2 linked regions of the Homo sapiens genome follow. The protein of the gene in region 1 interacts with the protein of each later gene in a pairwise test. Each region holds a gene or a part of one and is shown in the gene's direction. Other genes may lie near its edges.

Region 1 (3,751 bases):
GGTGACAATGTAATTTAGTTTCAGCCATTGTGAAAGCAGTGCGACAATTTTTCAAAGAACTTAAAACAATCTTATTATTGGATATATACCCAAAGGAATATAAAACATGCTACCATAAAGACACATGTATGCGTATGTTCATCACAGCACTGTTCACAATAGCAAAGACAAGGAATCAATCGAAATGCCCATCAATGGTAAACTGGATAAAGAAAATATGGTGCATATACACCATGGAATACTATATGCAGCCATAAAAAGAACAAGATCATGTCATTTGCAATCACGAGTGAACCTGGAGGCCATTATCCTAAGCGAACTAATACAGGAACAGAAAACCAAATGCTTCATGTTCTCAGTTGGAGTGGGAGCTAAACACTGTGCTAGTGCATATGGACACAAAGATGGGAACAACAGACATGAGGCCTACCTTAGGGTAGAGGGTGAGAAGAGAGTTAGGATCAAAAAACTACTTATCAGTTACTATGCTTATTACCTGTGTGATGAAATAATCTGTACACCAAACCCCCACAACATGCAAACTACCTATATAACAAACCTGCACATGTGCCCCTGAACATAAAATAAGTTTGTTTTGTTTTGTGTTTTGAAACAGGGTCTCTCGCTCTATCACCCAGGCTGGGGTGCAGTGGTGCAATCTTGGCTCACTGCAACCTTCACCTCCCAGGTTCAAGCAATCCTCCCACCTCAGTCTCCAGAGTAACTGGGACTACAGGCATGTGCCACCACACCCAGCTGATTTTTGTATTTCCTATAGCGACAGGGTTTTGCCATGCTCCCCAGGTTGGTCTCGAACTACTGAGCTGAAGCGATCAACCTGCCTCAGCCCCAGCCCAAAGTGCTGGGATTACAGGTGTGAGCCACTGTGCCTGGCCAGAATAAAAGTTCTTTTTAAAAAGTTTCAGTTGTGCATTTTAAAAACTACCCCAGTGAGACATCTTTCTCAAGAACCTCTTTTTACTTTACATTCTCATTTTCACTACTTTTCACTAAACCTTACATTTAACTAATAGGTTTAATGATTATTCTTGTTTCATACCTGTTTTCTTGATTGACCAGTACCTGCTCTAAAAACCTAAATCTGAAAGTGATACCATAACATCTTAGCCAAGTTAAAATACATATAACCATTGACCTAGCTGTTCCAATTGTAAAATTAATTTTAACAAAAGTGTCTGTACAAGTGCACATATTTACATATATCAGGATGTCCACTCATCAGTTTTGATAGGTAAAAACCAGAATCTAAATAAATTATGGTATGTAAAGACTAGAGAATATGCTATTGTTTTTTGTTGTTGTTTTTAAGAGATGAGGTCTCACTGTCTCACTGTCTTTCCCAGGCTGGACTCAAACTCCTGAGCTCAAGTGGTTCTCCCACCTCAGGTTCCCAAGTAGCTGGGACTGTAGGCACACAGCACTATGCCAGGCTATGCTGTTGTTCTTTAAAAGTAAAGTTGGGCTTGGTGTGGCGGCTCATGCCTGTAATCCCAGCACTTGGGAGGCCAAGGCAGGCGGATCATGTGAGGTCAGGAGTTGGAGACCAGCTTGGCCAACATGGCAAAACCCCATCTCTACTAAAAATAGGAAAATTAGTTGGGTGTTGTGTTGGGTGCCTGTAATCCCAGCTACTCGGGGAGGGTGAGGCAGGAGAATTACTTGAGCTTGGGAGGCGGAGGTTGCAGTGAGCTGAGATTGCACCACTGCACTCCAGCCTAGGCAACAGAGCAAGACCCTGTCTCCAAAAAAAAAAAAGCTTGATCTGTGTTTTGACATTGAAAAATGTTCATATAGGTAAAAAAGCAAGGTTTTGAACAATATAGGTAATTAATTTTTCAGAGTGTTTATATGTGTACTTAATTTGTCTTTGTCTAGAAAATGGTCTGGAAAGATACATATCAGTCTGTTAACTGTGATTATTTCTGCGGAGTGATATTGGATGTTTTTGTGGGCAGGCAGAGAGTTTTTACTTTTTATCTTACATAGTTCTGTGTTAAACACATTAGAACAGGAAAATGACACTTCATTACTTAACAATAAATAGATAAATTTAAATGATACTACAACACTTGTCAAAAACTGAGTTTTTGTGATTCTCCTGCCATTCAGTTGGTAATGACTAGCCTACATGTTTACATTTTTCTTTTATCCATGTTATAAATTAAGTCCTAGTTTATAGGTCAGCTAAAAATAATTTTATAAATTATTGGGTTTTAAAAGAAAAATGGTAGCTAGTGAAAAGTATAAATGGGTCTTAAATTTGTTCAGATCATTTGTTTACTGTGGTCAACTGCAGTATTCCTTTTTGTGGGCTAGTAAAAGGAGTTACTTTTGCATGATTTTTAACTATGTCTACCAGAACGATTTAATAAAAAAATAGTTTCATACCCTGTTTCAGTGTGCTTTTTAACAAATCAGATTATTGCCTTTCAGGTTTCTCAGGACCATGAAACAATGGCCCAAGTTTTGTTCAGCAGGAATATGAGATTGAATGTAGCTTTAACTTTCTGGAGAAAGAGAAGTATAAGTGAACTTGTAGCTTATTTGTTGAGGTAAGTGTGACCTTTTATCCTCTTTGTTCAATCACTTTTTTTCTGAGACAAGTTCTTGCTTTGTCATCCAAGTTGGAGTACAGTGGCACAATCATGGCTCACTGCAGCCTCAACCTGCTGAGTTCAAGCAGCCCTCCCACCTCAGCCTCCTGAGTAGCTGAGAGTACAGGTGCACATCACCACACCTGGCTATTTTTTAAAAAAATTTTTTGGAAGACATGAGGTCTTATGTTTCCCGGGCTGGTCTCGAACTCCTGAGCTCAGGTGAACCTTCTTCATTATTCTAAACTGCCTATATGTAGCTTCAGTAGAGACAGTATGGCTTAAATTACATTCCTCACCCATCTAAGAGTAACCAAAATACAGAAAACAATGTTTTATCAGATTGAACAAAGCTGTTACCTTTCCTGACTGTCATTCTTACCTATAAAACTAAGAGATAACGATATGGGAAAACTAACCTTCTAAAAATCCCTTTTGAGGCCAGGTGTGGCAGTTCTTGCCTATAATCCCAGCATTTGGGAAGGTTGAGGTGAGAGAGTCCCTTGAGCCCAGGAGTGAGAGACTGAGCAACATAGCAAGACTCCATCTCTACAAAAAATAAAAATAATAAGCCAGGCACAGTGGTACGTGCTTGTGGTCCCAGATACTTGGGAAGATCACTTTGAACCCAGGAGTTGGAGGTTGCAGTAAGCTGTGATTATGCAACTACATTCCAGCCTGGGCAACCGAATGAGACCCGTTTCTTAAAAAAAAAATTACTAAAAATAAAAAGTAAACATCCCTTTTGAGTGGGAATTTGAAGCATTACTTTCCTCATTGTATTCAAGTCTCTCAGATGTTACCTTAGGGAAGCCTTCTTTGACCAACTTATTTTAAAATACCTATTTCTCCACTCCCTATCTCGCTTTCCTGTTTTATTTTTCTCCATAGCACTTATATCAACCTGCTCTATATGTCTTATGTCTTGTTATTTGTTTATTGCCTGTCTCTGTCCCACCCCCCAACCCCCACAGTTGCTCACACACTGGAATACAAGCCCTGTGTCTTTGTTCATTGCTGTATCCACAGACATGACTCATTGTAGATACTGACATTGTTAAATGAATGAATTTCTCAAAAGCGGTGTGAATAATCATAATATGAAAGTAAATAAGGAAATCAGCTCTCTAAGGCAA
Region 2 (3,751 bases), on another chromosome or scaffold:
ACTTCCAAAGAAAACCATCTGTCTCCCAATGTCTCCCTTGATACCTCTGTTCTCCCTGCTCCCAGCAAGTGAAACTTGGCAGCCCTGATTATATAGACTGTGACCGGGAAAAGGTTCTGGAAGACTTTCTAAAGAGAATTGAGTGCTATGAGGTCAACTACCAACCCTTGGATGAGGAACTGGACAGGTAAGAGCCAGCACCCCAAAGTCAAGGTCTAGATCTTTCACCCAGTTTTGATATCCTGTAGAACCTAGAGTAAATATCCTCCCTTGCTGGGCCTCAACTTCTCTATCTGTAATATCAGGAAACTGAACTTGATGATCTTTCTTCAAGGATCCTTTCAGCTCTGATTCCTTGATGTGTAAGGTGTTCCTAAGATGACTAAAATAGTGCTTTCCTGAGCAATATGAACAGTTCAGGACCCTGGGAACAAATGCCCCCCTCCTGTGGGTGTTGCGATTATTATTACAAAAGTGTTCTTCACACGTGAATGACACTTCAGTTTCCAAACATGTATACCTTCTTTCTTACATTTAATCCTCTAGGACTCCTGTAAAGGAGGCTGAGATAAGTCTTATGGTCATAAAATTTCAAGAAAAAGAAATTGAGTCTTAGAGAGTTGAAATTACTTTCCCAAGCTCCCACCACAAGGGGTAGAGCTAGGATTCTAATTACATGTTCTGTCTCCTAGTCATGTCTCTTTTCACAACACTCCCATGTCTCATCAATCAACAAGTATTTGGACCCTTTGGGCTGTGGTATATGTAGGGGGTATAAATAGGGGCAAAAGAGGTGGGTTCTATCCTCGGGTAGCTTCTATAGTGCTTTGACATATGAGAAGACCCATAAAAAAAAACAAGAAATGTTCTGTCATCATACCAACTAAAGATAGGAGAGAGCAGATGTGAGTTTTAGATATAGAATGTTCCCAGAACCCTACTCTCTTTGAAAATGTATTATGATGAGAAGAGACCCCAAGTGAGAAGTATAAAGAGGCTTCAAATGGTCATCACCACTCTAAGAAATCTAAAGAGTGGCCTTACCCAACTGAAGTACCAAGAAATGAGCACTGTTACTGCCCCACTCTTTAGATGGAGGAACTGAGACCCAGATCAAGTCAAAGTCTTACCTTGGGCTACACAATGAATGAGTCAGTAGCACAATATATACTCGAACCCATATCCCAGTTGTGCAGATTGTTCATTGTACAGGCACCCTGGTCAAGGGTACACTCGCTTCTCTCACCAAGATGTGTGCTGAAGTAGGGCTGTGTGACCCTGAGGAAAGTACGGCTTTTTAAAATTATCACAAAGGCACAATATGGGCTAACAGCATATGGTGAAAGGAGCCTGAAGGCCGGGGTGAAGGATGTAAGTGAAAGAACGGCATTGACAAAGCCCCAGCCCTGGGCCTAGACCCTGCAGTTGCTAGGTTGCTGTTTGATGAATTAGTTTGGGCCAGAAGAAGACAGATCTAGAAGGTCAGCTTTATGTCATCATTTCTCCATCAACAGACATTTACAGTCTATGCATCAGGTCCCAGCCCTGAACGTGGAATCAAAAGAGGAAAGGGCTGTCCCTGATTTGACAGAATGTCCAGTTAGTTGGAGAAGACAATGAGTACACAGTTGGTCACAACTCTGGTGACAGTAAACCAACTGGGCTGTAGGAACATAGGACCCAGTCCAGCTTAGAGGAAGAAGGTCTAAACGAGCTGGATTACCCAATAGGCAGACTACACTGAGGTTACCAGCAAGATAAGGGCTACCAAACTAAGAAAAAAAACTATCTTAAAAACTTTTATTTATTTATTTATTTTTAATTTTTGAGACAGAGTCCCGCTCTGTCACCCAGGCTGGGGTGCAGTTGCGTGATCTCAGCTCACTGCAACCTCTGCCTCCTGGGTTCAAGCAATTCTCCTGTCTCAGCCTCCTGAGTAGCTGGGACTACAGGTGCCCGCCACCGTGCCTGGCTAATTTTTGTATTTTTATTAGAGATAGGGTTTCCCATGTTGGCCAGGCTGTTCTCGAACTCCTGACCTCAAATGATCTGCCCGCCTTGGCCTCCCAAAGTGCTGGGATTACAGGCATGAGCCACCGCACCCAGCTGGCTTAAAGGCTTTTATAATATTGACTATTTCAAAAACAGCATCAAGGTAGTCAAAGTGGAAAAATATAAAACCAGAACTTGGGAGGACCTCCCCATATTCTGTAGTTTATAATTTTTATTTTAAATAAAAATTTAAAAATTTTTTAAAAAATTTTTAAATAAAATTAAAAGTTTGGATGAGGGTAGGCATTAGCTACTCTGCTATTTTTGGTGTGGAACACCTCTAAATGACTTCACATGATCCTGGTCTCAAAAAAGAGAGTGAATATGCCGGCTCTTGAGGTATAAATGCATAGCAGCTCAACTTTGGAAATCGGGCAAAGAGAATAGCACTTTGTAAGTGCCTAGTTAAATCTGAACAAGAGTAGAGAAATACAGAAAATATTCCAAGAGTAATAGCAAAGGTATGAAGACAAGAATGAAACAGAGAAGATATGGGTATGGGCATGGGACCATAAAGTGAGGCCAACTGGGCTCAGTGTGAGAAGGCAAAACCAGAAGATCAGACTAAGCTGAGGAATTTGGAAGCTCCTAGAGCCTCAAAGGACCTAGTGTTAGGAACAGACAGTAGCCAGGCAACAAGTTTACATCAGATATTTTCTATCCCTAGGCTCTGAGGGTTCTAGAAGAAATGATTGGAGAGGGGAGCATTCTGGGGTTCTTCTTCCCGAGAAGGTGGCCTTGGAGAAATCACTTTCTCTCTCTATGCCTCAGTTTCTTCATCTTTGAAACAGAGGTGATAATCTCTGCTCTGTAGCAATATTATGAGGATTCATGCGCTTAAAAGTTCCCACTCCCTGCCAGATGCACAGAAAGTGTTCAACAAATACAAGTGCCCTGTGGAAGCCATTAGGCACAGATGGGCATGATGAGTGTGGTGCAGCCATAAAGGGCTTCTCTAGGAAGAACTAGGGAGAGGCTTTCTGAAACCAAACCTATCAGCAACCTTACCTGCCTGGAGTTAGTGCAGTGCAGCTCTTTCCATTCACTCGGTTTTGTTACCATGCAACCAGGGCTGCTGGTGTCACCCCATTGCCCCAGCCTTCCACTCCTCTTCCCAGGGATTTCTCTGAACTCTGTACAGGCCAACAACTAAAGGATTTAATGCCTGGTACAGCGTAGGCCTCAGAAGTCTTGCTCCATGTTTCTAGTCTTCTGATTAGTCAGTGCCTATACTCCACCCTTCAGCTTCTACACAAACAGGTGGTTGAACAGTTTAAATATCATTCAGTATATAGGTATTAGTTCATGACAGAGCACAGAATTGAGGATACAGTAAGGAACTTGGGACAAGGACCACAAGTTCCCCAATAATGTTGTGGACCACCTCTGTATCCCCATGCCCCACTGCTTGGCACACCTTAGAGGGAGTGACTATTTATGGAATGAATGTTGAGCACTGATCATGTGTTTCCAAGTATTTGTTCCTGACTGGCCAGAGAGCTCCCAAAGCACAGACAGTGGGTCTCCATGCCAAGCACAATGCCTAGAACAGAGGAGTATGTTTGGAGTATGTTTGTTGACTGCATAGCAAATAGGAAAATAACCCAGGCCAACCCCACTTCTGAGTGAGGAGAGAAACACACACATGCACAGACACACATATGCACACAGAGGCAATCTGGTAGCTGTGTGTAGAGTA

Evidence for each region. Proteins that work in one complex are often made in the same cells at the same time.
Region 2: the proteins of KATNBL1 (region 1) and PFKFB1 interact in binary tests that used the Homo sapiens proteins (3 or more experiments, as listed by UniProt).

The regions. Positions count from the first base shown.
Region 1 is NC_000015.10:34,147,454-34,151,204, reverse strand, and holds part of KATNBL1 (KATNB1-like protein 1), read left to right. Parts: intron 1-2,454; coding exon 2,455-2,573; intron 2,574-3,751.
Region 2 is NC_000023.11:54,952,589-54,956,339, reverse strand, and holds part of PFKFB1 (6-phosphofructo-2-kinase/fructose-2,6-bisphosphatase 1), read left to right. Parts: intron 1-65; coding exon 66-187; intron 188-3,751. UniProt on the Homo sapiens protein: Synthesis and degradation of fructose 2,6-bisphosphate.